Linked DNA regions of Homo sapiens: regions 1 and 3 are each linked to region 2. The links come from fine-mapping of genetic effects on gene expression. A gene starts in region 2. Each other region holds a variant in brackets. All regions are shown on one strand. Distances are from middle to middle.

Region 1 (10,734 bases), 82 kb after region 2:
CCTCAACCTCCTGGGCTCAAGCGATCCTCCCCACTCAGCTTCCTGAGTAGCTGGGTCCACAGGCGTGTTCCTATGCCTTATTAAATTTTATTTCATTTTATTTTTGAGACAGAGTCTCGCTCTGTTGCCCAGGCTGGAGTGCAGTGGCGCAATCTTGGCTCACTGCAACCCCCACCTCCCAGGTTGAAGCGATTCTCCTGCCTCAGCTTCCCAAGTACCTGGGATTACAGGTGCCTGCCACCACACCCGGCTAATTTTTGTATTTTTTTTTTCTTTTTTGAGATGGAGTCTTTGTTGTCCAGGCTGGAGTGCAGTGGCGTGATCTTGGCTCACTGCAACCTCCGCCTCCTGGGTTCAAGCGATTCTCCAGCCTCAGCCTACCGAGCAGCTAGGACTACAGGCACGCACCACCGTGTCCAGCTAATTTTTGTATTTTTAGTAGAGGCGGGGTTTCGCCATCTTGGCCAGGCCGGTCTCTAATTCTGGGAGTGGTTTATGTGAGAACCACAGTGTGAGAACTCTAATCAGGGGATATAGCTTCAAAGAAAATGTCTTTTAGAAAAATGTCTTGGGGCCAGACATGGTGGCTGATGTCTGTAATCCCTGTGCCTTTAGAGGCCAAGGCAGGAGAAATGCTTAAGGCCAGGAGCATGAGACCAGCCTGGGCAACACAGCAAGACCGCATCTCTGCAAAAAGGATTTTAAAAATCAGGGGCCTACATCCCCTTACCTGGGATGACCCCTTTGCCAAGCACTCGCTTGGTGAACTCCTACTCGACCTTCAATACCCAATGCAAGACGCTCTTCCTCTGAGAAGCTCATCCTCATAATTCAAGCTCACGCATCCTGGCTTCTCTCTCACCCAGATGGATGTTGTCCTGGGTATTGGTCTCCTTGTCCCTCTCCCTCCCCACACAGTGAGCTCCGTGAGGGCAGAGCACCCATTGGGACTTCCTTAACCCAGTGGTTACCACTTCCTCTATTTAAACATAAAACAGATTAAAGGGGCCAGATGCAGTGGCTCATGCCTGTCATCCCAGCTCTTTGGGACGCTGAGACGGGAGGATCGCTTGAGCCAGGGGTTAGAGACCAGCCTGGGCAACATAGCGAGACCCCGTCTCTAAAAAAATTAAAAATGTTAGCTAGGACTACAGGCACATACCACCATGTCCAGCTAATTTCTGTAGTTTTAGTAGAGACGGGGTTTCACCATCTTGGCCAGGCTGGTCTCGAACTCCTGACCTCAGGTGATACGCCCACTTCAGCCTCCCAAAGTGCTGGGATTACGGGCGTGAGCCACCGACCGCACCTAGTCTACTTTTTAATTTTCATTTTTTTTAGGAGGAATCTTGCTCTGTCGCCCAGGCTGGAGTTCAGTGGCACCATCTCGGCTCACTATAACCTCTGCCTCCCGGGTTCAGGCAATTCTCCTGTCTCAGCCTCTGGAGCAGCTGGAATTACAGGCATCTGCCACCACGCCCAGCTAATTTGTTTTTGTATTTTTAGTACAGATGGGGTTTCGCCATGTTGGCCAGGCTGGTCTCGAACTGCTGACCTCAGGTGATCCGCCCGCCTCAGCCTCCCACAGTGCAGGATGGCAGGCAGGAGACCCTGCGCCCGGCCCCTTCTACTTTTTTACATTAACTTTTCCGTGTCCACCGAGGGCAGTGGTGTGGTTAAGTGCCTGGATGCCGGAACCAGCCTGTCTGGATGGAGCCTGGAGGGTAACCTTGGTGGGGCTCATGCCTGGACCTCCCTGGACCTCAGTCCCCTCCATGATGAAGATCACACTGACCCCCAGGGCTGTGTGGGTAGTGAGGTTACAGCCACGCCCGGCACCCGGAAGGTGCAGGATGAACGCAGGCTCCCAACACTGTTCTGCACGGTATCGCTGCTCTGCACACCCATCAGGCACTGACGTGGAACCTACCAGAACCTACCTGCTGGAAGCCCTGGGGACACAGGAGAGGCCACCACGTCCCTGTCCTTACAGCTCAGATTCTAAAGGAGGGAGGGGAGATGAGGCACCAGGAAAGGAGGGGATCAGCACGCGGGCTCAGAGGTGGTCGGCGTCAAAGGCATTCACCAGCCAACCACAGGGGCTCACACGTGTCATCCAGCACTTCAGGAGACTAAGGTGGGAGGATCGCTTGAGGCCAGGAGTTCAAAACCAGCCTGTCCAACATAGCGAGGTCCTGTCTCTACAGAAATAAAAACAATTAGCTGGGCATGGTGATGTGTCCCTGTGGTCCCAGCTACCCAGAAGGCTGAGGCAGGAGGAACGCTTGAGCCCGGGAGATGGAGGCTACAGTGAGCTATGACTGCACTACTGCACTCCAGCCTGGGCGGCAGAGCAAAACCCCGTCTCAAAGAAAAAGAAAAGCGTCGTCCGGGCGCGGTGGCTCACGCCTGCAATCCCAGCACTTTGGGAGGCCGAGGCGGGCGGATCACGAGGTCAGGAGATCGAGACCATCCTGGCTAACACGGTGAAACCCCATCTCTACTAAAAATTACAAAAAATTAGCCGGGCTTGGTGGCGGATGCCTCTAATCCCAGCTACTCGGGAGGCTGAGGCAGAATGGCATGAACCCGGGAGGCGGAGCTTGCAGTGAGCGAGATGGCGCCACTGCCCTCCAGCCTGGGCAGCAGAGGGAGACTCCGTCTCAAAAAAAAAAAAAAAAAAAAAAAAAAAAAGAAAAGTGTTCACCCAGGAGGCCTGAGGCTGTGTCCTCAGAAGGCGGCTGGTGAGGGCGTCCCTTGGTGGGTGTCCGGGAGCCTGTGCTGGGGGCCTCCCACCCTCATGGATGGGACGGGCTCTGGGGCTTCAGCTGTTCCTGCAAACACCATGGTTTATGCGTGACCCCTGCTTTCCTCTGGAGTCTGGAATCCCGGCATGGGTGAGGCAGCGGGGGCTGTGGGACCAGGCCCCATAGGAACCCCACGCTGGGTCTCTAGGAGCTTCCCTAGTGATGGCGCCTTTCTCGAGTCCTCCAGGCTGGTGCTAGGGGATGAGGCGCGTCCTGCGAAGCTCCACCAGGAGAGGATCTGGAAGGCCTGGCCCCCGACACACCACACATGCCTTTCCCCTTTGCTGAATCTGCTGTGTCCTCTCGCTGTGACAAACCGCAGCCATGCGGGCGACCACGTGCTAAGTCACCGTGCCCGGCAGTGGCCTGGGACCCCCTCGAGAGACGCCACAAGGGAGAAAGTGAGATGGGCGGTGGGAAAGGGGTCCTTGCAAAGGCGACACTCCAGAGAGCGGGGAAAGGGTCTGGGGCAGAGGCAGCGCCTGCCGGGGCAGAGGCTGCGAGGTGGGGCTGGGTTGGGCCGGCCCTGACTCACGCGGTCTCCTGCTCGTCCTCCTCCTGCTGCTGCCTCCGCCGCTCCTCCTCCGACAGGCGGTGCTGCCTCAGCATAGCCTCGAAGTCCACGTGCGCCTGCCGCTGGTTCAGGTCTTTCAGCTCCTGGAGGTTCTCCAGCACCTCCATCTCCAGCTTGGAGTCCTTGGTCCGGTTCTCCAGCACCTGGCGGGCGCGGGGCGGCGGGGCTGAGTGCATGGGGATCGCACCACGGGGCAAACCCTGTCTGGCCTCGGGGGCCACTGCGGGCCACGGGAGGAACCCCTACCCCCACGTTTCCATCCTGCTCAGGGAACCCCCTGCCCATGCCCAGCGCTGTGTCCATTTCACAGGTGAGAACACTCAGGTCTGGGGAGGGAAAGTGACCACATGGGGCTGAGCAGTGGTGGAGCCGGGATCTGAGCCCTGGGGCAGGGTGGGGTGGAAAGAGGCTGGCTCTGGACCCAGGTGGCCTGGATTTCTGGCCTGGTGCCATCTTTCAGTAAGAATAATAAGGAAAAATTTGGCCAGGCACAGTGGCTCACGTCTGTAATCCCAGCATTTTGGGAGGCCGGAGCGGGCGGATCACCTGAGATCAGGAGTTCGAGACCAGCCTGGCCAACATGGTGAAACCCTGTCTCTACTAAAAATACAGGCTGGGTGTTATGGGTCACGCCTGTAATCCCAGCACTTTGGGAGGCCGAGGCAGACAGATCACTTGAGGTCAGGAGTTCAAGACCAGCCTGGCCAACATGACGAAACCCCATCTCTACTAAAAATACAAAAAGT[A/C]GCTGGGCGTAGTGGCATGTGCCTGTAATCCCAGCTACTTGGGAGGCTGAGGCAGGAGAATTGCTTGAACCCGGGAGGCAGAGGTTGCAGTGAACCAAGATTGCACCACTGGACTCCAACCTGGGTGACAGAGTGAGACTCCATCTCAAAAAAATAAATAAATAATAAAAATACAAAAATTATCCAGGCGTGGTGGCACACACCTGTAATCCCAGCTACTTGGGAGGCTGAGGCAGGAGAATCACTTGAACCCAGGAGGCAGAGGTTGACTGAGCTCAGATCGTGCCAATGCATTCCAGCTTGGGTGACAGAGCGAGACTCTATCTCAAAAATAATAATATTAAGGAAAAATTGTAAAAGACAACCTGAGCACCTACTGTACACCGGGCCCTGGGCTAAGAGGTTTCCATATGCCATCTCATTTAATCCTCACAACCCCCATTTTACAGAAACGGAAACTGAGGCTGAGGGAGGCGAGTCTGGTGGCCACGGGTCCCTGAGAAGTGGCTTTGGAGCCAGGCAGGTTGGGAGTGAATCCTGCCTGGCTGCTTCCCAGTGCTGTGACCTTGTTGTATTTACCCTTTGGAAAAATGGCAATTCTGACAGTTTAAAAGTATGTCCACAAACTCTCTGATGCTCCTCCATTTAAGGGGTGGAGGTGACTCCCCTCCCCTTGAGCAGGGGCTGGACAAGCTACTTGCTCTAATGGAATATGACAGAAATAATGGCACGTAACTTCTGAGACTAGGATGTAAAAGCACAGGCCTTCCTCCTTGCTCTCACTCTTGGGTCACATGCTCTGGGGTACGCAGCTGCCATGTTGTGAGGTTGCTCAAGCAGCTCCCCACACAGCGAGGAACTGAGGCTGACAGCCAACAGCCAGTAGAGGGAGCCAGTTTGCGAGTGGCTCCTCCAGCCCCAGTCCAGCCTTCAGATGATACTGCCCTGGCCAACACCTTGACTGCAACCTCATGGGAGCCCCCAAGCCACAACCATCCAGCTCAGCTGCTTCTGGATGCCTGACTCTCAAAAACTGTGGGATAATAAATGTTTGTTGTTTTCAGTCACTAAGTTTTGGGATAACCTGTTATGTAGCAATAGCTGACTAACACCAGGGTAAGAGCCCCTTGCTGTCAGTGTGGAGGTAACTAAATTCACACACAGACAGCAGTGCGACAGGCCCAGGCACACACCAAACCCTTGCCAAGGCTCATTTCCCTCCCTGTTGCTCTGCATGGCCATGGAAAATGTTGTATCTGGTCTGATGTGGCTTGCTCAGAAAACTCACATTTGGCAGGGGTGGGTGGGTCCAGGAATAGATAAGAATGGATGGGAAATATGGAAGCAGGAGGGGACAGCAGGGAACACAGTCATTTAAAAATCTGTTTTATATATATATGTGTATGTATATATATGTATATGTGTGTGTACATATATATATATATATATATATATATTTTTTTTTTTTTGCGACAGTCTTGCTGTCTTCCAGGCTGGAGTGCAGTGATGTGATCATAGCTAACTGCAGCCTCAACTTCCTGGGCTCAAGTGATCCTCCCGCCTCAGCCTCCCTAGTAGGTGGGACCACAGGTGCACACCAGTACACCTGCCTAATTTTTGTTGTTGTTGTTGAGACAGAGTTTTACTCTTGTTGCCCAGGCTGAAGTGCAATGGCGCGATCTTGGCTCACTGCAACCTCCGCCTCCTGGGTTCAAGCAATTCTCCTGCCTCAGCCTCCTGAGTAGCTTGGATTATAGGCGCGTGCCACCACGCCTGGTTAATTTTTGTATTTTTAGTAGAGACAGGGTTTCGCCGTGTTGGCCAAGCTGGTCTTGAACTCCTGACCTCAGGTGATCCGCCTGCCTCAGCCTCCCAAAGCACTTGGCTGATTTTTTTTTTTTTTTTTTTTTTGACACAGAATCTTGCTCTGTCACCCAGGCTGGAGTGCAGTGGCATGATCTCAGCTCACTGCAGCCTCTGCCTCCTGAGTTCAAGCAATTCTCTGCCTCAGCCTCCCGAGTAGCTGGGATTACAGGTGTCTGCCACCATGCCCGGCTAATTTTTTGTATTTTTAGTAGAGACGGGGTTTCACCCTCTTGGCCAGGCTGGTCTTGAACTCCTGACCTTGTGATCCACCTGCCTTGGCCTCCCAAAGTGCTGCGATTACAGGTGTGAGCCACCACGCCTGGCAAGCACCTGGCTAATTTTTTAATGTTTTATAGAGACAGAGTCTCACTATGTTGCCCAGGCTGGTCTTTGACTCCTAGACTCAAGTGATCCTCCTGTCTCAACCCCTAAAGTAGCTGGGACTACAGGTTCAAGCCACCATGCATGGCTCCTTTTAATATTTCTGAGAAAATACAAAATTGTCCTATTGGAAGTGAACATAATTTCTTTTATTTATTTATTTTTTTTGAGACAGAGTCTTGCTTTGCTGCCCAGGCTGGAGTGCAGTGGTTTGATCTCGGCTCACTGCAACCTCTGCCTCCCGGGTTCATGCAATTCTCCTGCCTCAGCCTCCCAAGTAGCTGAGATTACAGGCATGCGCCACCATGCTTGACTAATTTTTTTTTTTTTTTTTTGGAGACAGAATCTCACTCTGTCACCCAGGCTGGAGTGCAGTGGCGCCATCTCGGCTTCCTGCAACATCTGCCTCCCCGGTTCAAGCGATTCTCCTGCCTCAGCCTCCTGAGTAGCTGTAATTCCAGAAGCGTGCCACCATGCCTGGCTAATTTTTGTATTTTTAGTAGAGACGGGGTTTCACCATGTTGGTCAGGCTGGTCTCAAACTCCTGACCTCGTGACCCACCCACTTCGGCCTCCAAAAGTGCTGGGATTACAGGTGTGAGCCACTGCGCCCAGTGTTAAGTTTTAAAATTTTTAGTAGGAACAGGGTTTCGCCACATTGGCCAGGCTGGTCTAGGACTCCTGACCTCAAGTGATCCTCCCGCCTCAGCCTCCCAAAGTGCTGAGATTACAGGCATGAGCCACTATGCCTGGCCTCCTGGGGACATCTTAAAGTTTTACCAACCACGCCCCCCACCCCATCTTCCTTCCTTGGGGACCTGAGGCAGGAAGGGCACAACCATTGGCACACACACACACCCACACACACAGCGCCCATGAACACCTACATGGCCCCCGACTCACCTTCATGGGGTTGTTCAGCTCCTCGTCCTCCCGCTCCTTCTGCACCCTCTTCTCCTCCTCCTCCAGGAGCTTCTCAGCCTGGAAATTCCGCGTGGCTCCATGCTCCATGGTGTAGTCTGTGTTTTCAGGGTCTGTCTGCAGGGAGGATAGACAGACATCAGCTCCTACATCCCCAGGCACTAGAATCTTCTAAAGTACCACCAGCAGATCAGGGCCCCTTCTCTCTGATTTTTACTGGTTCTACTACCTTCTCTTTTTCTTGTCTTATTGCTTTGACTGGTGAGATTTCTTCCTAGTGCTCCTCCCATCTCCATGGGCAAAAATGCCCAACTCCCTGGCATGGACTTTAAGACTCTTCTCATCTGCCCACTGCCTCCCTGCATCCTCCACTCCCTACCCTTAACATGACTGCAAACAAACTCTCCAATGAGGCAGGTGGATCACTGGAGGTCAGGTATTCAAGACCAGCCTGGCCAACATGGAGAAACCCTGTCTCTACTAAAAATACAAAAAATTAGGCAGGGCAAGGTGGTGCATGCCTGTAATCCCAGCTACTCTGGAGGCTGAGGCATGAGAATCACATGAACCTGGGAGGCTGAGATCACACCACTGTACTCCAGCCTTGGCTACAAAGTGAGACCCTGTCTCAAAAAAAAAAAAAAATCTCCAAGGTTCTGCACATGTTGTGATTTCTGCCCTTTGTATTTATTAACACCTTTTCTTTGATTATAAATCACATGTACAAATATGTATACAGCATGCCCCTGTTTTTGTTTATTGAATAGAGAGGCTAAATACACCCTGGTATCTTAAATTACACACTGGAACAGAAAAGTGACATTAGCAGAAAAACTGAAATCTACCTTTGGTCTAAATGCTAATAGTAACACTATGTTTTTTATTTTTTTGGGGACAGGGTCTCGTGCTGTTGCCCAGGCCGGAGTGCAGCGGCAGGATCATGGCTCACTGCAACCTCAGCCTCCCGGGTTCAAGCAATCCTCTCACCTTAGCCTGCCGAGTAGCTGGGACTACAGGTATGCACCATCACACCTGGCTAATTTTTAAATTTCTTTTTGGTAGAGACAGGGTTTCGCCATGTTGCCCAGGCTGGTCTCTAACTCTTGGACTCAACCGATCCTCCTGCTTTGGCCTCCAAAGTGCCGGGATTACAGGCATGAGCCACTGCACCCAGCCACAGCCTACAATGTTAATGGTAACATTCCACCTTTAGTTTCTTTTTTTAATTAAAATTTGTGTGTGTGTGTGTGTGTGTGTGTGTGTGTGTGTGTGTAGACACGGACAGGGTCTCACTATGTTGCCCAGGCTAGTCTTGAACTTCTGGTCCCCAGCAATCCTCCTGCCTTGCCTTCTCAAAGCGCTGGGAGTAAGCCACCATGCCTGGCCCCACCCTTAGTATCTTACTGTGACAGATGTACCCTGGTTATATAAGATGCTAATATTCGGGGAAGTTGGTGAGGGGGTAGGTGAGAATTATCTGTACTATCTTTGGAACTTTTCTGTAAATCTTCAGGTATTTCAAAAAAAGTTTTTGTTTGTTTTTTTGCAGACAGGGTCTCACTCTGTCACTCAGGCTGGAGTATAGCAGTGAAATCATGGCTCACTGCAGCCTTGGCCTCCCAGACTCAATTGATTCTCCTGCCTCAGCCTCCCAAGTAGCTAGGACTATAGGCGCATGCCATCATGCCCAGCTAATTTTTATATTTTTTTGTACTGACGGGATCTCACTATGTTGCCCAAGCTGGTCTTGAATTCCTGGATTTAAGCGATCCTTCTCCCTTGACCTCTCAAAGTGTTGGGATTACAGGCGTGAGCCACTGCACCCAGCCAAAATATTATTATTATTATTAATTTATTTATTTATTTTTGAGACGGAGTCTCGCTCTGTCGCCCAGGCTGGAGTGCAGTGGCGCGATCTCAGCTCACTGCAAGCTCCGCCTCCTGGGTTCACGCCATTCTCTTGTCTCAGCCTCCCGAGTAGCTGGGACTACAGGCACCCGCCACCACGCCTGGCTAATTTTTTTCTGCTTTTTTTTTAGTAGAGACGGGGTTTCACTGTGTTAGCCAGGATGGTCTCGATCTCCTGACCTCATGATCCGCCTGCCTCAGCCTCCCAAAGTACTGGGATTAGAGGCGTGAGCCACTGCGCCCGGCCTATTTTTGTATTTTTTTTTAGTAGAGTTGGGGTTTCATCATGTTGTCCAGGCTGGTCTCGAACTCCTGACCTCAACTGATCCACTTGCCTTGGCCTCCCAAAGTGCTGATTATAGCTGTGAGCCACTGCGCCCAGCCCAAAATGTTTTTTTAATCAAAGAAAAAAAGCTTATGGCAAAAAAGTATTCAAAGAGTACTTAAGCATAGGAAGAGAAAATTTTAAGTTATCTTCAGTCTTTCCTTAAATTCTCAAGGTAACAAATAAAAGTCAAATTGCAATTTTTATTGGCTGTGTAATATTCCATTGCACGCTACTTTTTTTTTTCTTTTTGAGACAGAGTTTCATTTCGTTGCTCAGGCTGGAGTGCAATGGCGCAATGTTGGCTCACTGCAACCTCTCCCTCTCGGGTTCAAGCGATTCTCCTGCTTTGGTCTCCCAAGTACCTGAGATTACAGGCATGAGCCACCACGCCTGGCTCACTTTTGTATTTTTAGTAGAGACGGGGTTTCACCATGTTGGCCAGGCTGGTCTCAAACTCCTGACCTCAGGGGCTCTCTTTCCTGCCTTGGCCTCCCAACCTGCTGGAATTACAGGCATGAGCCACTGTGCCTGGCTTTTTTTTTTTTTTTTTTTAGTTGGAGTCTTGCTCTGTCACCCAGACTGGAGTATAGCGGTGCAATCTTCGCTCACTGCAACCTCTGCCTCCCAGCTTCAAGTGATTCTCCTGCCTTAGCCTCTCGAGTAACTGGGATTATAGTCCGCCACCATGCCCAGTAATTTTTGTATTTTTAGTAGACATGGCATTTCGCCATGTTGGCTAGGGTGGTCTTGAACTTCTGACCTCAGGTGATCTGCCCGCCTTGGCCGCCCAAAGTGCTGGGAGTACAGGTGTGAGCCATGCCCAGCCTGCATGCTAATTTGTTCTTCTCATCCCTTATTATTATCTATCTAGGTTGCTTCTGTCTTTTTGCCTTTATTTAGAATGCTGCCATGAACATCTCCCCCAAACTGTTGTCTGTTTCTTGGGGATAAACTGAAATGAGATTCCCTGGATGGAGAGGATTGGAGTTAAGGAACCCCAGGGCCCGCCCTGATCTGAGGTGTGCTGGGGGAGAGGGACCGGCCTGGCCGGCCGTCTCACCTACCTTGAAGGTGATCTCTGCCAGGCAGCGCGTGCACTTGATGTAAAAGCGGAAGATGGGCAGGCCCAGGTAGACCTCGTTCTGCACCGTCTCCTTCCGAGCATTGAATTTCTTCCCCTTGTAGATGTATTCTCCGCACGTCT
Region 2 (10,734 bases):
GAGCTGCGGACAGCGAGAGGCTGCAGGGAGGCCGCTCGCCCCACGGCTCTGCAGCCCCGCGCCCCTGCAGCCCCGCGCCCCGCGCCTCCGCCCCGCTGGGCCCGCCGTACCTGCCATGGCCGCGCCTCCCCGCGCCCGGAGCTCTAGACTCCGGCTTCCCGGCACGTCACGCGGCCCCGCCCCGGGGAGGGGAGGGGCGCCCCAACCATTGGCCGTCGCCGGGGTCGGGGGAAGGGCTCGGCGCGCTGGGGTGGGCGGAGAAACTGAGGCCTCGGGGATGCCCACGCGGGAGAGAGATCGGGAACTCAGCCCTCTGGGAACATTCGGGAAACTGAGGCGTGACGGGGTGTTGACCGGGAGCTCATTGGTGCGAATGGGGAAACTGAGGCCTCGCTGTCCAGGGATAGAGGTTGCAAGGTGGAAGCCTGGGGCGGGTGCGCGAGTGGCTCAGCCTGCTGCAAGGAGAGGAGAAGGTGAGACCTGCGGTCACCGCACTTGAGGAACTCAGAGGCCTCGGCCTTTAGGACCAGGGGAGAAACTCAGGTCCAGGGGAACAATGCGGACTCCAATAGGGAACAGCCTCGCGCAGACACAGGTGGAGCCAAAGAGCCCAAGCCGGCCTCAGTCGCTAAAGAATTAACTCCCACCCTCCCGGGCGGCCCTCGACTGATTCCATGATTGGACCGTTGCGGAGCCCGCCAGCCAATGATAAGAGTCCCATTTATTTCACCCTCAACCAATCGATAGCAAGCTACTGGATTCCCGCACCAACCAATCCGTGTCAACTATCTGATTACACCAACTCGGATTTGACCAATGGGCAGACGTCCATGTAAACCAATCAGTAGAAACCCTTAGTTATGAGCGCAAACCATCAGAGGCAGGGACTGGACTCACCAGCCAATCAGCTCCGGGTATAAGGCCAGCCGAGTCCGGCCCTCCATACCCTTGGGCGGAGCAGGAGGCAGGGCCGGGCTCGTTGCGCGCCTGATCAGTGCAGCCCCGGCCTTTGTCCCCTACCCTGTTTCTGCAACTACATCCCCGACCCTGTCCTGGGACCTTCGTCCCGGAGCCCAGGCTCTGGGATTTCCCTCAGTCCCTGGCAGGGTTGAAAGTCCGGGATGGGGACTTCCTAAAGCTCCGGGACGCCGTGGGATGGGCTCAAGTGCGGGTGGCTTTGCCCAGACCGCAGTCGGGAAGTGGGAACTGGACAGTAGGGGTGCGGGGGAGGCTCTCCAGGGTGCTCGGGAATGTTCTCAGGAAGAAGACTTGACATAGAGCAAGAGCTGGGTACATGTGAACTATTGTTGTCCAGCCCAGGCACCCTTTAGGGGCCCCACCCTGACTGTCCAGCCAACAACGGGCATCCCCAAGGCCTGCAGACTCAGCATAGCCCAAACCGGCCTCAGTTTATTTCCCCAACTCCTTACGCACTTTCTCTTTGGCTTTTTTTCCGTCCCCTGCCTTCCAAAACCCTGAGCCACACCTCCAGCCTCTTGCACCCAAATCCTGGCCATCGCAGTGAGTCTCAGGCCTCCAAACTCATGCCCCACCCTGTCGGTCTTCCACCATTGCCCCAGAGGGCTCTTTCTAAAATGCACCTATTACCACCTCCCTCCCATATTATTATTTTGTTTTCTTTTCTTTTCTTTTTTCTTTTTTTTTTTTTTTTTTTTTTTTTTTTTTTGAGACGGAGTCTCGCTCTGTCACCCAGGCCGGAGTGTAGTGGCAAGATCTTGGCTCGCTACAACCTCTGCCTACCAGGTTCAAGCGATTCTCCTGCCTCAGCCTCCCAATTAGCTGGGACTGCAGATGCACATCACCACACCCAGCTAATTTTTGTATTTTTAGTAGAGAAGGGGTTTCACCATGTTTGCCAGGCTGGTCTCGAACTCCCAACCTCAGGTGATCCACCTGCCTCAGCCTCCCAAAGTGCTGGGATTACAGGTGTGAGCCACTGCGCCCAGCCTATTTTCTTTTCTTTTCGAGACAGGGCCTTGCTCTATCTCCCAGGCTGGAGTGCATTGGTGTAATCATGGCTCACTGCAGCCTTGGCCTCCTGGACTCAAATGATCCTCTTGCCTCAGCCTCCAGAGTAGCTGAGACAACAGGCGTGACCAGCATGCCTGGCTAATTTTTAATTTTCTTGTAAAAGAAGGGGATCTCACTATGTTGCCCATGCTGGTCTCCAAGTCCTGGCCTTAAGCAATCTTCCCACTTGGGCTCCCAAAGTGTTTGGATTACAGGCGTGAGCCACCGCACCCTGCCCTCCTCTCATGCTGTAAATCCTTCTGTCGCTCCACATTGCCTTAGACAAATACAATAAAAACTAACCACCCTGGCTGGGCACAGTGGCTCACGCCTGTAATCCCAGCACTTTGGGATCACTTGAGGTCAGAAGCTGAAGACCAGCCTGACCAACATGGTGAAACCCCATCTCTAATAAAAACAAAAAAATTAGCCGGGGGTGGTGGCAGGCACCTGTAATCCCAGCTACTCCAGAGGCTGAGGCAGGAAAATCGCTTGAACCCGGGAGGCGGAGGTTGCAGTGAGCCGAAATCATGCCACTGCACTCCAGCCTGGGCAAAAGGAGCAAAACCCTGTCTGAAAAAACAAACAAACAAAAAAACGAAACAAAAATCAACTCTCTGACCTTACTTAGTATAGCTGATACTATCAACTTTATCAGACAGTTCAGTGGATGAACACATTGCCACAGTCCCACGGCCTTTCTGTGATTTCTAGAACACCTGTTCTGCTATGTATACAAAGTCTAGCCCTGGTAACTACTAAGGAAATTGAATTTGTAATTTAAAAACTCCCAAAAAAGCAATCTCCAGACCCAGATGGTTTCACTAAGGAATTCTGCCAAAGGTTCAAAGAAGAATTAACACCAATTTCACATCATCTCTTCCAGAAAATTGAAGGGGACACTTCCCTGTTCATTTTATGGAACTATGACCCTGATACCAAAACCAGATAAAGACGGTACAAAGAAAGCAAGCTACACCCCATATCCCTCATGAAGACGTGCAAAAATCCTTAACAAAATATTACAAAGTAGAATTTAACAATATATAAAGTGAATTATACACCATGACAAGTGGGGTTTACTCCAGGGACCCAAGACTGATTCAGTATTCAAAATTAATCAATTGTCCACCATATTAAACAGGCTGTGGTAGGCAGAATAATGGTCTCTTAAAGATATCCACGCCCTAATTCCCAGAATCTGTGAATACGTTAGGATACGTGGCAAAGGGATTTGAAGATTAAAGATAGACGCCAGGCACAGTGGCACACACCTGTAACCCCAGCACTTTGGGAGGCCTAGACTGGAGGATCACTTGCACCCAGGAGTTCAAGACTAGCCTGAGGGCCGGGCACGGTGGCTTATGCCTGTAATCCCAGCACTTTGGGAGGTCGAGGCAGGTGGATCACAAGGTCAGGAGATTAAGACCATCCTGGCTAACACAGTGAAACTCCATCTCTACTAAAATAAAAATACAAACAAATTAGCTGGGCATGGTGGCACGTGCCTATAATCCCAGCTACTCGGGAGGCTGAGGCAGGAGAATTGCTTGAACCTGGGAGGCAGAGGTTGCAGTAAGCCGAGATCGCTCCACTGCACTCCAGCCTGGGTGACAGAGTAAGACTCTGTCTCAAAAAAAAAAAAAAAAAAAGACCAGCCTGGGCAACATAGCAAGAACCTGTCTCTAGTAAGTGTAAAAATTAGCTGGGCGTGGTGGCAGGCACCTGTAATCCCAGCTACTTGGGAGGCTGAGCCAGGCGAATGGCATGAACCTGGGAGGCGGAGCTTGCAGTGAGCCGAGATCACGCCACTGCACTCCAGCCTGGGCTACAGAGCGAGAGTCTGTCTCAAAAAAAAGAAAAAAAAAAATTAGCCAGGTGTGGTGGCATGCAACTGTAGTACCACCTACTCTGGAGGCTGAGGCTGGAGGATCACTTGAGCCTGTAAGGTCGAGGCTACAGTGAGTCATGATCGCCCCACTGTACTCCAGCCTAGGCAACATAGTGAGAACTCATCCTTAAAAAAGGAAAATAAATTAGCTGGGTGTGGTGGTGCCCACCTATAGTCCCAGCTCTTCGGGTGGCTGAGGCAGGAGGACCGCTTGAGATTGGGAGGTCAGGGCTGCAGTGAACTATGATCGTGCCACTGCACTCCAGCATCGACAACAGAATGAGACACCGTCTAAAAAAGAAAAATTGCAGATGAAATTAAAGTTGCTAGTCAGCTGACTTTAAAATAGGGAGAGTAGCGTGGATTATCCAGGTGGGCCCAATGTAATCATTAGGGTCCATCAAAGTAAGAGAAAGGGCCAGGTGTGGTGGCTCATGCCTGTAATCTCAGCACTTTGGGAGGCTGAGGCGGGCAGAAAACTTGGGGTCAGGAGTTCGAGACCAGCCTGGGCCAACATGGGGAAACCTCGTCTCTACTACAAATACAAAAATTAGCCAGGCGTGGTGGCGGTCACCTGCAATCCACGCTAGTCAGGAGACTGAGCTTGGACTCAGTCTCTGAACCCGGGAGGCAGCGCAGTCTCTTGAACCCGGGAGGCAGAGGTCGCAGTGAGCCAAGATCATACCACTTTACTCCAGCCTGGGCAACAGAGTGAAACTCTGTCTCAAAATAGGAAAAATAGATAAATAAATAAATAAAGAGACAGACCATGTCTCTGTCTTTGCAGATATAGCGAAGATTATTCTCCCATTCAAGTAGACTTATACATTCTCTCTGTTCTCAGTTCCACACCGGAGAGGCGGGGATTTCCCTAGGATCACTGGACCTGCTGGGATCAGCCTCTGCCCAGCCCTGGCAGGGGAGGGAGTTGACGGGCTGACACAGGAAACTCCCCTGAAACCTGTTTCTCAGCTTCCCGGCCCAGCTGGGGCACCCACTGGAAGGAGAGGCCAGGCGGAAGACCCTGGCTCCGTCATGGCCTCTGCCCTGAGGCCACCCCGTGTCCCCAAGCCTAAGGGTGTCCTGCCTTCACACTACTATGAGAGCTTTCTAGAGAAGAAGGGGCCCTGTGACCGGGTAAGGTGGGGAGGCGGGGGCTGGCCCTGCTGGGCCACCGTGGGGAGCTGCGGCACCTCTCTGAGTCCCTGTCTCCCCACTCGCCAAGGGGGGGCGGGGTGGGTGCTGGATGGGGCAGGACACGTGCTGGGGGACTGGGGTGGGTTCTGGCCATCTGCCTCTCTGTGCGTCTATCTCTGTCTCCGTGTGTCTTTGAATTTGGTTTCTTTTTCTCTTTCTCTCTCCCTGGCCCCGTCTGTCTCTCCCGATGTCTGTCTCAGTCTCCCTCTCTCTTTGTCTCAATCTTTGCTTTTGTCTCTCGTTCACTCTCTTGAATACAAACAAGATCAGGGACTTCCTCCAGGAAATGGGGAGTCCTCTGACTCCCGAGCTTCCTCCCGCTCCCAGCCCAGGAAAAACTCCGTGAACCTCAGCTGCTGGGGCGAAGGCCAGGACAGGTGACATGTGAGGACAGTAAGAGCTAGCGGGGGCCACATTCCACAGGACAGATAGTTGCCATGGACAGTGCGTGCATGTGTGTGTGTGTGTGTGCTTATGTCTCCCTCAGAATAAAGTCCCAGCCCCTCCGTTCCCCGTGAGGCCCTATCTCTCCTTCCCAATGCCGCATATTCATTTTCTTTCTTTCTTTTTGTTAGAGACAGAGTTGCTCTGTCACCCAGGCTAGAGTGCAGGGGCACGATCATGGCTCACTGTAGCCTCAAACTCCTGGGCTCAAGTGAACCTCCCGCCCCAGCCTCCTGAGTAGCTGGGACCACAGGCATGCACTGCCTCTTCTGGCTTTTATTTTATTTATTTATTTTTGAGACTGAGTCTCACTCTGTCACCCAGGCTGCAGTGCAGTGGCACCATCTCGGCTCACTGCAACCTCCACCTCCCAGGTTCAAACGATTAAGCGATTCTCGTGCCTCAGCCTCCCGAGTAGCTGGGATTACAGGTACGCACCACCACACCTAATTTTTGTATTTTTAGTAAAGACAGTGTTTCATTTTGTTGGCCCGGCTGGTCTTGAACTCTTGACCTCAGGTGATCCACCTGTCTCGGCCTCTCTAAATGCTGGGATTACAGGCATGAGCCACCGCACCCAGCCTTTTTTTTTTTTTTTTGAAGATGGGGTCTTGCTGGCCAGGCGCAGTGGGTCACACCTGTAATCCCAGCACTTAGGGAGGCTGAGGCAGGTGGATCACCTGAAGTCAGGAGTTTGAGACCAGCCTGGCCAATATGGTGAAACCCCGTCTCTACTAAAAATACAAAGATTAGCCGGGCGTGGTGGTGCGTGCCTGTGATCCCAGCTACTCTGGAGGCTGAGGCAGGAGAATCACTTGAACCTGGGAGGCAGAGGTTGCAGTGAGCCAAGATCGTGCCACTGCACTCCAGCCTGGGCAACAGAGCAAGACTCCGTCTCAAAAAAAAAAAAAAGATGGGGTCTTGCTATGTTGCCCAGGCTGGTCTCAAACTCCTGGCCTTAAGTGATCCTCCTGTCTCAGCCTCCCAAACTGCTGGGATTAGAGGTGTGAGCCACCATGACTGCCTCATTTTCTAATACAGATCAAAACAAACACCCCCAGCTCCTCCCTGCCCATGTCCCCGCCTCTGCCCCTGAGGTTCCCTTACCTGTAGTGGAGTAGACTTTCCTTCTACCTCCATACATCCAAATCCTCCCCAACCAACAAACCCTTTAGAGCCAGTAGATCACTGCAGTTAAGAAAGATAATGGGGGAGGCCGGGCTTGTGGCTCACGCCTGTAATCCCAGCACTTTGGGAGGCCGAGGCAGGCGGATCACCTGAGGTCAGGAGTTCAAGACCAACCTGGCCAATATGGTGAAACCTCGTCTCTACTAAAAAATACAAAAATTAGCTGGGTATGGTGCCAGGCGCCTTAATCCCAGCTACTTGGGAGGCAGAGGCAGGAGAATCATTTGAGCCTGAGAGGCGAAGTTTGCAGTGAGTCAAGATCAAGCCATTGCACTCAAACCTGGGGGACAAGAGCGAGACTGCTCTCAAAAACAAAAAGAAAAAAAAAAGAAAAGAAAGATAATGGGGGCCGGGCGTGGTGGCTCACGCCTGTAACCCAACACTTTGGGAGGCCGAGGTGGGAGGATCACTTGAGGTCAGGAGTTCAAGACCAGCCTGGCCACATGATGAAACCCCATCTCTACTAAAAATAAAAATAGCTGGGCGTGGTGGTGTGCACCTGTAATCCCAGCTACTCGGGAGGCTGAGGCAGGAGAATTGCTTGAACTGGGGCGGGGGGGTTGCAGTGAGCTGAGATGGTGCCACCGCATTTCAGCCTAGGTGACAGAGTGAGACTCTGTCTCAAAAAAAAAAAAAAAAAAAAAAGGCAGTGTGCAGTGGCTCACGCCTGTAATCCCAACACTTTGGGAGGGCGAGGCCGGCGGATCACTTGAGGTCAGGAGTTCGAGAACACCCTGGCCAACATATAGTGAAACCCCACCTCTACTAAAAAATACAAAAATTAGCTGGATGTGGTGGTGCGCACTTGTAATCCCAGCTACTTGAGAAGCTGAGGCAGGAGAATGGCTCGAACTGGGAGGTGGAGGTTGCAGTGAGCCGAGATCGCACCACTGCACTCCAGCCTGGGCGACAGAGCAAGACTCTGTCTCTTAAAAACAAAACAAAACAAAACAAAAAAGATCATGGGCCCGAATTAAGAAGACCCAGGTTCTAATCCCGGCTCCACACTTTCCTTACTCCCAGGCCTTATGCAAGTGACTTAATCTTTGAGCCTTAGTTTTCTGTCTTCTGAAATAGGGAGTTAGGGCTGTAGTCACAGTTCACGTGTTGAGGACTTGACTCAACGCAGGCCCTGGTGCTTCCCATGTGGAAAGTCACCTAATTCTCATGAGATCCTCCAGAGTTGGCACCATTATTATCACCATTTTACAGCTGGGGAAACAGACAAAGACAGCTCAAATAACTTGCCCAACAGCACATCGTGGGTACATAATGAAGCAATACAGTGTTTAATCCTGTATTGCTCTAGTCCCAGTGCCTGGAGCAGGGCTGGCACATAAAAAGCCTTCAGTAAATGTTAGGTAAATGCATGTGTGTATCTGTGCTTGTGTCTACGGATGGACAGGTGGATGGGTAGATGGGGGGATGAGTGGAGGCTTGGTGAATACATGCGGGCTTGATGGTGGCTGAGAGGATGTGTGGGTGGATGGATGAGTGCATATACAAGTGGGTGGATGGATGGATGGGGGAGTGGATGGATGGATGAGTGGGCAGACGGGTGGGTGGGTGGATGATGGATGGATGAACAAGTGCATGGATGAATGATAGATGGATGAATAGGTGGATGCACGATGGAGGGATGTATGGATGGATGAACGGGAAGATGCGTGGGTGGGTGGATGGTGAATGGATGAATGCATGGATGGATGATGGATGGATGAGTAGGTGGATGGATGATGGAGGGATGAGTGGATGGATGGATGATGGATGGATGAGGGATGGATGGATGAGTAGGTGGATGGATGATGGAGGGATGCATTGATAGATGAGTGGATGGATGTATGGATGGATGGATGGATGAGTGGGTGGATGGATGAGTGGGTGGATGGATGATAGATGGTGGGTGGATGATGGAGGGATGGATGGATAGGTGGATGGATGGGTGGATGGATTGATGAGTGGGTGGATGGATGAGTGGGTGGATGGATGAGTGGGTGGATGGATGATGGACGGTGAGTGGATGGATGGATGGATTATGGAGGGATGGATGGATGGGTGGATGGATGGATGAGTAGGTGGATGGATGGAGGGATGCATTGATAGATGAGTGGATGGATGGATGAGTGGGTGGATGGATGAGTGGATGGATGATGGAGGGATGGATGGATGGGTGGACAGATGGATGTGTGGGTGGATGGATGACTGGATGGATGGTGGGTGATGTAGGTATTGATGAATGACTGGATGGATGGATGATGAATGGCTCCATGATGGATAGATGGATGGATGGGGGTGATGGACGGATGGATGAGTGGGTGGATGGATAGATGAATGGATGAATGGATGGGTAAATGGTAGGTGGATGGATGAATGGGTGGGTGGGTGGATGAATAACTGGATGGATGGATGTGTGGATGGGTGGGTGGGTGGACGGATTGGTGGATGGATGGTGGGCAGATGGATGGATGGATGAATGGGTGAATGGATGGGTCAATGGTAGGTGGATGGATGAATGGGTGGGTGGGCGGATGGACAGATGGATGATAGATAGATGGCTAGTGGGTAGCTGGATGATGAAAGATGAATGGGATACCATTAAACCAGTTAGTTAACTTACCCCTAGAGCACCCATCTCTATAGATTGGCGGGGGTTGCTCTGAATCCCTCATCACATCGAGGTTCCGTCTGGTCCTTTCTCAGACGAAAACAGACACCCAGAAGCTGGGCCATGGGTGGGGAGGATCTCCCTGAGAAGGTACATTTGATCAGAAACTCAAGGCAGGAGGTAATAAAGATCTGGGGGCAGCGTGGGGCAGAGAGCACAACCAGTGCAAAGGCCCCGAGACAGGATTGAGTACATGAAAGGCACTCAGCTTGGCCAGCTCACCTCTTCTTTCTGCACTTCTGGTCCCTAGGATTACAAGAAGTTCTGGGCAGGCCTGCAGGGTCTCACCATTTATTTCTACAATAGCAATCGGGACTTCCAGGTAAGGATGGGAATGGAGGCTCCAGAGCAGGCCTTCCCTTGAGCCCAGAGACCAAGCAGACAATGTAGATGGTGTGGTCAAGGTGGCTGCTACATCATCCAGGGGGCCTGGAGGCCAAGGAACTGGTGCCCAGATCCCCTGCTTCTATGCCCCCAGCACGTGGAGAAGCTCAACTTGGGAGCATTTGAGAAACTCACAGATGAGATTCCCTGGGGAAGCTCACGTGACCCTGGCACCCACTTCAGCCTGATTCTCCGGGATCAGGAGATCAAGTTCAAGGTAGGTCCCTTGCTGGAGGGGTGCAGAGGGGCGGTGCTTGCAGAAGATGCTCAAATGCTCCTACCCTCCATTGTGCCAACCACGAAGGGGCAGGTAGTACAGGGCCCTGTGGGCCCTGGGTAAGACTTGGGTCTTGACCCCAAAGGAGCTGGGTGCTATGGGAGGGTTTATTTTATTTTATTTTATTACTTTTTTTTTGAGACCAAGTCTCGCCCTGTCACCCAGGCTGGAGTGCAATGGCACGATCTTGGCTCACTGCAACCTCCACCTCCCAGGTTCAAGTGATTCTCCTGCCTCAGCCTCCCAAGTAGCTGGGATTACAGGCGCACGCAACCACTCCTGGCTAATTTTTTGAATCTTTAGTAGAGATGGGGTTTCACCATGTTGGCCATGCTGGCCTGGAACTCCTCACCTCAGGTGATCCACCCACCTCGGCTTCCCAAACTGCTGGAATTATAGGCGTGAGCCACCGTGTCCAGCCGAGGGTTTATTTTTTATTTTTATTTTTTGAGTTTCGCTCTTATCACCCAGGCTGGAGTGCAGTAGTGCAATCTTGGCTCACTACAACCTCTGCCTCCCAGGTTTAAGTGATTCTCCTGCCTCAGCCTCCCGAGTAGCTGGGATTACAGGCGTGTGCCACCACGCACAGCTAATTTTTGTATTTTTGGTAGAGACAGGGTTTCACCATGTTGGCCAGGCTGGTCTCGAACTCCTGAC
Region 3 (10,734 bases), 100 kb after region 2:
GCGCGATCTTGGCTCACTGCAACCTCCACCTCCTGGGTTCAAGCAATTCTTCTGCCTCAGCCTCCCGAGTAGCTGGGACTACAGGCGGATACCCACGCCTGGCTAATTTTTTGTATTATTATTTTTAGTAGAGATGGGGTTTCACCATCTTAGCCAGGCTGGTCTTGAACTCCTGACCTTGTGATCCACCCGCCTCAGCCTCTCAAAGTGCTGGGATTACAGACGTGAGCCACCGCACCTGCCCCTGAATGGATTCTACTGTCCCACTCCAGGCGGAATCCCTGCCACCCCACCCTGGCATCCCCAGGCCCATGACGTCCCCTGGTCCAGCCCTGACACTATGGGAGTGGGGATTTGTGGTTTCTGTGTCCTTTGGTTTAGGGCTAAGTCCTCGCTGGATCTCCTCTAAGTGAAAAGAGGAGTCTTCATTTCCTTATTTTTTTCAGACGGAGTCTTAGTCACCCCATCGCCCAGGCTGGAGTGCGATGGCGCGATCTCAGTTCACTGCAACCTCTGCCTCCCGGGTTCAAGCAATTCTCCTGCCTCAGCCTCCCGAGTAGCTGGAATTATAGGCACCCACCACCACGCCTGGCTAATTTTTGTATTTTCAGTCGAGACAGGGTTTCACCATGTTGGCCAGGCTGGTCTTGAACTCCTGACCTCAAGTGATCCACCTGCCTTGGCCTCCCAAAGTGCTGAGATTACAGGCGTGAGCCACCATACCCAGCTGGAGTCTTCATTTCAACTATTATTTTTTTTGTTTTTGTTTTGAGACGGAGTCTTGCTCTGTTGCCCAGGCTGGAGTGCAGTGGTGCAATCTCAGCTCACTGCAACCTCCGCCTCCCAGGTTCAAGCGATTCTCCTGCCTTAGCCTCCTGAGTAGCTGGGGTTACGGGCTCAGGCCACCATGCCCAGCTAATTTCTGTATTTTTAGTAGAGACCGGGTTTCACCATGTTGGTCAGGCTGGTCTCGAACTCCTGACCTCGTGATCTGCCCGCCTCGGCGTCGGGATTACAGGCGCGAGCCACCGCACCCGGCCTCAACTATGATTAAAACAAACAAACAAACAAACAAAAAAACCAGGGTCTTGCTCTGTTGCCCAGGCATGAAGGCAGTGGTGTGACGACAGCTCACTGCAGCCTTAACCTCCTGGACTCAAGTGATCCTCCCACCTCAGCCTCCCAAGTAGTTGGGACTGTGGGCGCGCAACATCACACCTGGCTAATTTATTTTATATTTATATTAATTTTTTAGAGATGGGGTCTTGCTGTGTGGCCCGGACTGGTTTCGAGCTCCTGGCCTCAAGCTACCCTCCCACGTCGGCTTCCCAGTGACTGGGATTACAGGTGCGATCCACTGCGCCCAGCCCAACAACAATTCTTTTCTAATTAAACAATAAAAAATATCTCACAGTGACAGTTCAGTCAGCCCTGCACTGTGGTAAAGGTAAAGGTAAAGGAGAGAGTAGTACATCTCCATTTCTCAGCTAGAGAAACTGAGGCTCAAAGGGAAAAGTCGGTCATCTGAGGTTGCCCGGCAGCTCAGCAGCAGCAAAGCAAGGACTCCAGCCCAGGCTAGGCAGATCCCATCCGCCCTCCAACAGGTGTCCCGGGGCTTAGGGTGGCGAGGACCCAGGTGCTGTCTGGAGGCAGCGGGAAGCCCTTGCTACTTGCCCAGGCTCATTGTGGCAGTGGCGGGGAGACTCCAGTCACTCAGTTCCCCGTAGTCTGTGAGGTCCTGAGCCGCCACTTGGACGTAGTACCTGGCTCGGGGCCGCACAGCCCTGAGGATGAAGGACGTGGCTTCAATGGGCCCCACCTGAGAGAAGAGAGAGCGTCAGGTCACTAGAACCAGAAGATGGAGAGGGGCCACTGTGCACAGAACCACACAACGGAGCGTGCAGTCCTCCCTGCCCCCTGCAGGCTCCAGTCCAGGACTCTGGCCCCAGCTGTGCGGCCCCACCCCAAATAGCATCATGGGCTCCTCCCAATCCCGGCCTCTGTCTGTGTGGCCCCCAGAGCCACCTCTCTTACGAATCCTTCCTGGACCACACTAGCCCCTGTGGATGTCTCACCCAGGAGGGTCTTTGTTCATCAGGACATCCCTGATCCCTATAATCCTCTTCTTTCTCCTCCCTGGGACTAAACCAGGACCTCTGGGATAGGACCCCATACCTCCCTTTACCCCTGGTCCCACTATATTAACCATGCTTTTTTTTTTTTTTTTTTTTTTTTTGAGACAGTCTTACTCTGTTGCCCAGGCTGGAGTGCAGTGGGGCAATCTTGGCTTACTGCAACCTCTGCCTCCAGGCTCAAACCATCCTCTCACGTCAGCCTCCCAGATAGCTGGGATTACAGGCGCCCGCCACCATGCCTGGCTAATTTTTGTTTGTTTGTTTTTGAGACGGAGTCTCACTCTGTCACCCAGGCTGGAGTGCAGTGGCATGATCTCAGCTCACTGCAACCTCCACCTCCCGGGTTCAAGCCATTCTCCTGCCTCAGCCTCCTGAGTAGCTGGGATTACAGGCGCCCGCCACCACACCCGGCTAATTTTTGTATTTTTAGTAGAGCTGTGATTTCACCATGTTGGTCAGGCTGTTCTCGAATTCCTGACCTCGTGATCTGCCTGCCTCAGCCTCCCAAAGTGCTGGGATTACAGGCATGAGCCACCGCGCCAGGCCAATTTTTGTATTTTTAATAGAGATGGGGTTTCACCTGACCTCAAGTGATCTGCCTGCCTTGGCCTCCTAAAGTGCTGGGATTTCAGGCATGAGCCACTGCACCTAGCCTAACCGTGCTTTTTATTTTATTTAATTTATTTAAGTTGGGAGACAGAGTCTCTCTCTGTTACCCAGGCTGGAAGGCAGTGGTGCCAACACGGCTCACTGCAGCCTCAATCTTCCAGGCCCAAGTGATCCTCCCACCTCAGCCTCTTGTAACTGGGGGTACAGGTGTGTGTCACCACACCCAACTAATGTTTAAATTTTTTGTAGAGATGGGAGTCTCACTATGTTACCCAGGCTGGTCTCCAACTCCTGGACTCAAGCAATCCTCCCAACTTGGCCTCTCAAAGTGCTGGGATTACAGGTGTGAGCCACCCTGCCCAGCCAGAATTGTTCACTTTAAAATGGCTAATTCTGGCCAGATGAAGTCCTCACACCTGTAGTCCCAACACTTTGGGAGGCCCAGGCAGGTGGATCACCTAAGCTCCGTAGTTTGAGACCAGCCTGGGCAACATGGCAAAATCCCATCTCTACTGAAAATACAGAAATTAGCCGGGCGTGGTGGGCGCCTGTAGTCCCAGCTATTCAGGAGGCTGAGGCAGGAGAATCACTTGAACCTGGGAGGCGGAGGTTTCAGCGAGCCAAGATCGCGCCACTGCACTCCAGCCTGGGTGACAGAGCTAGACCTTGTTTCAATCAATCAATCAATAAAGTGAACAATTCGGTGGCTCACGCCTGTAATCCCAGCACTTTGGGAGTCCGAGGCAGGCAGATCACCTGAGATCAGAAGTTCGAGACCAGCCTGGCCAACATGATGAAACCCCATCTCTACTAAAAATACAAAAATTAGCCGGGCATAGTGGCACGTGCCCGTAATCCCAGCTACTCCAGAGGCTGAGGCAGGAGCATCGCTTGAACCTGGGAGGCGGAGTTTGCAGTGAGCCGAGATTGTGTCACTGCCTGGGCGACAGAGCGAGACTCTGTCTCAAAACAATAACAACAAAAACGGGTGTGCGACAGCTTGTGCAAGTCCCTGCTTTCCATCCTTTTCGGTAGAGGCCTAGGAATCAGATTGCTGGACTGCTCTTATTCAATGCACCCGGAATCGCAAGCTATGTGCAAGAGCCCAGCACACCTGCTAGTCTTGGTAAAAACCATTCCCTCTGCCAGGCACCACCCTTTCCAGCCTCCCCCTCATCCTCCTCACCCGGTGGAAGCGCGCAGCTCCCTGACGCTTGTAACGGATCCAGTACTTCAGTGAGAAGATCTCTGGGAAGGGCCAGGACCCGGGAGGCTCCCACTGCACCTGTAGCTGGCGCTCAGCGAGGGGGCTTAGGCGCACGCCTTCTGGAGGGTCGGGCTTGACTGACGGACAAGCAGGAAGCAGGGTCAGGGGACAGTAAGTCCAGTCATTCATTCATTCACTCATTCATTCAACCAACATATTATGTATATATTTTGTTTGTTTTGAAACGGAGTCTCACTCTGTCACCCAGGCTGGAGTACAGCGGCGTGATCTCAGCTCACTACAACCTCTGCCTCCCAGGTTCAGGCGATTCTCCTGCCTCAGCCTCCCGAGTAGTTGTGAGCCACCATGCCTGGCTCAACCAACAAATATTTATTGAGAAACTGTGTGCCTGGGGCTGCCACAGAGGGGACAAAACAGTGACCTTAACTGACCTACCCCTGTCCTCATGGAACTCACAATCCATCAGGGGGAAGACAGGAAATAAACAAATCCATAGGTCACACAGAATAGGGAAGAAAGCTGGGGAGTGCAGGAATGGCAGTGGCCGCAATTTTTGTTTTGTTTTGTTTTGTTTTTTGAGATAGAGTCTCGCTCTCTCGCCCAGGCTGGAATGCAGTGGCACAATCTCAGCTCACGGCAACCTCCACCTCCTGGGTTCAAGTGATTCTCGTGCCTCAGCCCCCTGAGTAGCTGGGATTACAGGCACCTGCCACTATGCCCAGCTAATTCTTGTATTTTTAGTAGAGGCAGGGTTTCACCATGTTGGCCAGGACTGGTCTCAAACTCCTGACCTCAGGTGATCGGCCTGCCTCAGCCTCCCAAAGTGCTGGGATTACAAGTGTGAGCCACTGAGCCTAGCCAGAGCTTGCAATTTTTAATAATCTACTCAGGAGAGGTCTTACTGAGGAGGTGATGTATGCACAGAGACCCGAAGGAGGTGAGGGAATAAGTCATGGGGACATTTGGGGGAAGGTGTTCCAGGTAGAGGGCACCGCCCATGCAAAGGCCCTGGGGCAGAACTATTCCTGGCATGTTGAACATCAAGGAATCACATGTGGCCACAGCAGAGTGAGCAAGGGGGAGACAGGGAGGAGGGGAGGGCATGGAGGAGACAGGGCAGGTTGTCCAGGGTTTGGTGGGCAGTAGGAAGGACTTGGGCTTTGACCCCAAGGCAGGTGGGAGCCATGGAGGGCTGTAGGCAGAGGGACG[T/G]GCCCTGACTCAGGTGCTCTCAGGCGCCCTCTGGTGGCTGCTGTGGGAAGGACAGACTGTGGAGGCCAGGGCTCAGGATGGAGGGGACTGGGCTGTCAATGATGGGGGTGCTCCACGTACTGGTAGAGGAGGGGGAAGAAGGGGTCAGATTTTTGCTTAAGTGTGAAGGTGCAGCCGCAGGACTGGAGGACAGGTGGGAGGTGGGGTGGGGGGAGCTGGAAGGAGACGGCAGCCCCGCCCCCGCCCCCACTGCCGCCCCCACTCACTGATGTGCTCTGTTATGAAAGGCACGAAGCTGCTGCTGGAGCCCCAGGGGTGGACGGCGGTGACATTGAGCACGTAGGGAGCCATGGAGAACAGCTGGACATCCGTGATGGTGCAGCTGGTGGACGTTGGCGTCTGCTGCAGGCAGGGCCAGCTGTGGCCCCGGGCAGCCATGCCGAGCCTGCACAGGGTGGGGCTCGCTGAGCGCCTCAGGGAGTGCCTGTGGCCTCAGCACCTCCTACTGCCGGGCCTGACCCGGGACCCCAAGGAGAGGCAGGAACAGGAGGGGGCAGCGGATGGGGATCCCGGGGTGGGGTCCTGGTGGTGGCCGTGCCACCCCCCGGGGGCAGGGCATGGGCCCCAACATCACGGTGCCCCTGATGGTTCAGGTCGGGGATTACAACCCAAGCTAGATGCTAGGGTCCGGGATTCTAAAGGTTTCTGGGATGTCAGCATTCATTCATTCATCCATCCATTCATTCATTCATTCATCCGTTCATTCATTCATTAATTCATTCCTTCATTCATTCATTAATTCATTCCTTCATTCATTCATTAATTCATCCCTTCATTCATTCATTCATTCATGACAGGGTCTCCCTCTGGCGCCCAGGCTGGAGTGCAGTGGCATGATCCTAGCTCATTATAGCCTTGAACTCCTGGCTCAAGGGATCTTCCCTGTCTCAGCCTCCAGAGCGGTTGGGACTACAGGCACGCATCACCACTCTTGGCTAATTTTAAATTTTTTTTCTACAGATGGGGGGGGGTCTCAGTATGTTGCCCAGGCTGGTCTTGAACTTCTGGGCTCAAGTGATCCTCCCACCTCGGCCTCCCAAGTACCTGGGACTACAGATGTGTGCCATTACATCCAGCTAATTTTTTTGATTTTAAGTACAGACAGGATATTGCTATGTTGCCCAGGCTGGTCTCAAACTCCTGGGCTCAAGTGATCCTCCCACCTCAGCCTCCAGAGTAGCTGGGACTACAGGCAAGTACCAACATGCCCAGCTAATTTTTTTTTCTTTTTCGAAATTTTTTCTTTTCTTTTCTTTTCTTTTCTTTTCTTTTTTTTTTTTTTTTTTTTTTTGAGACGGGGTCTCACTCTATCACCAGGATGCAGTGCAGCGATGCAATATTGGCTCACTGCAACGTCCACCTCCTGGGTCAAGCAATTCTCCTGCCTCAGCCTCCCGAGTAGCTGGGACTACAGGCGCGTGCCATCACACCTGGCAAATTTTTGCATTTTTAGTAAAGACAGGGTTTCACCGTGTTCGCCAGGGTGGTCTCCATCTCCTGACCTTGTGATCCGCCCACCTCGGCCTCCCAAAGTGCTGGGATTACAGGCGTGAGCCACCGCGCCTGGCCATGCCCAGCTAATTTTAAAAATTGTTTTTAGAGACAGGGTCTCACTATTTTGCCCAAGCTGGACTCAAACTCCTGACCTCAAGTGATCCTCCCACATCAGCCTCCCAAAGTACTGGGATTACAGGCATGTGCCACTGTGCCCAACCCAGGAAGTAGTTTTTTTTTTTTTTTTTTGAGATGGAGTCTTGCTCTGTTGCCCAGGCTGGAGTGCAATGGTGCCATCTTGGCTCACTGCAACCTCCGCCTCCTGGGTTCAAGCTATTCTCCTGCCTCAGCCTCCGGAGTAGCTGGGATTACAGGCATGAGCCACTGCACCTGACCAATTTTTAAAATTTTTCGTAGAGACAGTGTCTCACTACGTTGCCCAAGCTGGTCTCAAACTCCTGACCTCAAGCAATCTGCCCACCTCGGCCTCCCAAAGCGCTGGGATTACAGGCATGCACCACTGTGCCTGGCCCAGAAAGTATATTTCTATTGGACGGGGCCGCCCTAGAATTCCATAGGCCTGGGGTTCAGGATGTCGGGGTCTCCAGTTTTCCTGACCCCAGGGCTCTCAGGGCCAGAGTTCTGGGCTCTCCAGGAAGTCCAGTGTCCCTGAGGCCCCCTTCCAGGCTCTCCGACCTGTACGTGGCAATGAAGGACACGGGGCTGGTGGAGTTTGGAGCAGGCGGCAGGGTCCAGGAGCAATCCACGGCGATCGGGTACCGAGAGGCTCGGCATTGCACCCGGGGCAGTGTCAGAGCTGCTGGGGGCCCTGGAGGAAGACAGAAAGAGTGAGCTTCTGGTTTACCCCCAGATTGTCATAGCCCTCCCGTGCGCTGGGCTCCTGCCACGTTGCCAGCCAGCACCAGGTACATGGTAGGTGCCTAATAAAGGCTTTCGGAATAAATAGGTACATGGACAAAAGTCATCTGTCATCTTTTATCCCCACTGCAATCCATCTAGGTGAGGACTACTAGCCCATTTTCCAGATAGGGAAGCTGAGGTTTAAGCATCTACAGAGAGGAACTCGGGTAAGAGAGAGAGATTTTACCGTGTTCTCTCTTTTGTAATTGTTTTTTTTTTTTAAAGAGGGAGTCTCCCTCTGTCGCCTAGGCTGGAGTGCAGTGGCGAGATCTCGGCTCACTGCCACCCCCGCCTCCCGGGTTCAAGCGATTCTTAGCCTCCCGAGTAGCTGGGATTACAGGCATGTACTGCCACGCTTGGCTAATTTTTGTATTTTTAGTAGAGAGGGAGTTTCACCATGTTGGCCAGGCTGGTCTCAAACTCCTGACCTCAGGTGATCCACCTGCCTTGGCCTCCCAAAGTGCTGGAATTACAGGCGTGAGCCACCAAACCCAGCCTATAAATTATTATTATTATTATTATTTTGAGACAAGGTATCCCACTCTGTCACCTAGGCTGGAATGCAGTGGCACAATCATAGCTCACTGCAGCCTCCAATTCCTGGGCTCAAATTATCCTCCCACCTCAGCCTCCCAAGTAGCTGGGACTACAGGCACGTGCCACCACATCTAGCTAATTTTTTAATTTTTTGTACAGATTGGTGGGGTCCGGTTTCACTATGTTGCCCAGGCTGGTCTCGAATTCCTGGCCTCACGATCCTCACGCCCTGGCCTCCCAAAGTGCTGGAATTACAGGCATGAGCCACCATGCCCTGCTGTAACCATTTTGTCTTCAAGGACATGGAGATGTTCTCTAGTGCAAAATGAATGAATGTCGGCCGGGCGCGGTGGCTCACATCTGTCATCCCAGCACTTTGGGAGCCCGAGGTGGGTGGATCACCTGAGGTCAGGAGTTCAAGACCACCCTGGCCAACATGGTAAAACCCTATCTCTACTAAAAATATAAAAAGTAGCCGGGCATGGTGGCGGGCACCTGTAATCCCAACTACTCGGGAGGCTGAGGGAGGAGAATCTCGCTTGAACCCAGGAGATGGAGGTTTCAGTGAGCTGAGATGGTGCCACTGTACTCCAGCCTGGGCGACAGAGTGAGACTCTGTCTCAAAAAACAAAACCAAAAAGAAACCAAAGGAATGAGTGTGACTCAAATTCGCATGTCTGTGTAGCTATGTCTGTGTAGCTCTATGGATACCTCTGAGCTGTGACTGCCAGTCCCTATCACCCACAAGGTGACATCCTTCCACCCCCAATGTGGCACTCTGCCTCTCTGTGCCTCAGTTCCTCCATCTGTACAATGGGAGGGTAACCCCATCCCACCATTGGGCACGGGAGGATGTGATTTCCCACCCCAGACATGATCCGAGGCCAGTCCTCGTGTCATGTCCGTCTGCCTGGGCCCCCCAGTCCCCCAGGGGCCCCACATACCTTTCCTTCCACTGCAGGGCGGGCAGCTGGCCCAGAGGACAAGGGCCAGGAGAAGCTGCGGGGTCATGGCTGCGGCCAGCTCTGCTCTCAGGAGTGGGTGGGAACGTCGTGGGAGACTTGAGAGGGGAGGTGAGGACTTGGGACCTGCCCAGGGGAAAGCCCAGCCCAGGGTCAAGGCCCGCCCCCTCCCCGACTTCCTTCAGGTCTGACTCACTGGTGGGGCTCGTGGGGCCGCTAGGGAGATGAATTAGGGTGTGGAGGAGCCCCAGCCCCCTGGGGAGCACAGGCCACCCCTGCTCGGAAGGCCCCGAGGGTGGGGGCGGGGGAGGAGGCTGTGAAAGGGAGAAGTGGAGACCTGCTGGCTTTTCCCAGCACAGCATGTCCTGCTGGCCTTCCTTCCGCTGCCCTGAAGCGGGGGAAACCCCAGGCAGGCAGGCAGGGGCTCAGGGACATGGAGGGAGACAGAGGCAGAGATGGGGGAGAGAGGCAGAGAGACAGAGAAGACAGAAGGAAGACACAGAGAGACAGGGAGATGACAGAGACAGAGACACAGAGAGAGACACAGATGAGAGAGGCAGAGAGACAGAGACAAGAAGAGGAGGACACAGAGATAGAGGGATACAGAGACAGGGAGATGACAGAGACAGAGACAGAGAGACACAGATGAAAGAGGCAGAGAGACAGAGACGAGAGGAGGAGGACACAGAGATAGACAGGGAGATGACAGAGAGACACAGAGACACAGATGAAAGAGGCAGAGAGAAAGAGACGAGAGGAGGAGGACACAGAGAGAGAGAGACAGAGACAGGGAGATGACAGAGACAGAGACAGAGAGAGACACAGATGAGAGAGGCAGAGAGAAAGACAAGAGGAAGAGGACAAAGAGATAGAGAGACAGGGAGACGACAGAGACAGAGAGAGATACAGATGAGAGAGACAGAGATGAGAGGAGGAGGACACAGAGATAGATAGAGACAGGGAGATGACAGACAGAGAAAGGGGCATGACAGAGACAGAAACACAGAGAGAGACACAGAGATGAGAAAGGCAGAGATGAGAGGAGGAGGACACGGAGATAGACAGGGAGATGACAGAGACAGAGACAGAGACAAAGATGAGAGAGTCAGAGAGACAGATGAGAGGAGGACACAGAGATAGAGGGATAGAGAGACAGGGAGATGACAGAGACAGAGAGAGCTACAGATGAGAGAGGCAGAGAGACAGATGAGAGGAGGACACAGAGATAGAGGGATAGAGAGACAGGGAGATGACAGAGAAAGTGACAGAGATACAGATGAGAGAGGCAGAGAGACAAATGAGAGGAGGACACAGAGATAGAGAGAGACAGAGACAGGGAGATGACAGAGACAGAGAGAGATACAGATGAGAGAGGCAGAGAGACAGAGACGAGAGGAGGAGGACACAGAGATAGAGAGACAGGGAGATGACAGAGACAGAGAAAGGGGGATGACAGAGACAGAAACACAGAGAGAGACAGAGATGAGAGGAGGAGGACACAGAGATAGATAGGGAGATGATAGAGACAGAGAGAGACAGGGGAATGAGAGAGACAGAGACAGAGATGAGAGGAGGAGGA

The links. PIP is the estimated chance that this variant, and not a neighbour inherited with it, causes the effect. A credible set is the group of variants that fine-mapping cannot tell apart.
Region 1: its variant is the best candidate, but not a certain one, in a credible set for the expression of STAP2 in skeletal muscle (GTEx, PIP 0.58).
Region 3: its variant is the best candidate, but not a certain one, in a credible set for the expression of STAP2 in tibial artery (GTEx, PIP 0.65).

The regions. Positions count from the first base shown.
Region 1 is chr19:4,251,032-4,261,765 of GRCh38, reverse strand. It overlaps YJU2 (YJU2 splicing factor homolog), which reads right to left. Exons shown (of 8, transcript NM_018074.6): 3 at 10,595-10,734; 4 at 7,277-7,411; 5 at 3,343-3,524. Among named protein-coding and RNA genes, the nearest start is that of YJU2, 9.3 kb to the right of the region's middle. The variant A/C (reference allele first, on the strand shown) is at 4,128.
Region 2 is chr19:4,332,977-4,343,710 of GRCh38, reverse strand. STAP2 (signal transducing adaptor family member 2) reads left to right here and starts at 4,884. Exons shown (of 13, transcript NM_001013841.2): 1 at 4,884-5,059; 2 at 9,667-9,738; 3 at 9,895-10,017. The coding sequence starts at 4,958. It overlaps MPND (MPN domain containing), which reads right to left and starts at 149. Exons shown (of 13, transcript NM_001300862.2): 1 at 111-149; 2 at 1-3. The coding sequence starts at 117. RefSeq lists a silencer at 8-297 and enhancers at 366-1,097, 1,118-1,237.
Region 3 is chr19:4,228,021-4,238,754 of GRCh38, reverse strand. It overlaps EBI3 (Epstein-Barr virus induced 3), which reads right to left and starts at 9,232. Exons shown (of 5, transcript NM_005755.3): 1 at 9,138-9,232; 2 at 7,432-7,564; 3 at 5,448-5,626; 4 at 3,931-4,088; 5 at 1,227-1,819. The coding sequence starts at 9,204. The coding sequence ends at 1,667. RefSeq lists enhancers at 7,458-7,959, 8,923-9,012. The variant T/G (reference allele first, on the strand shown) is at 5,182.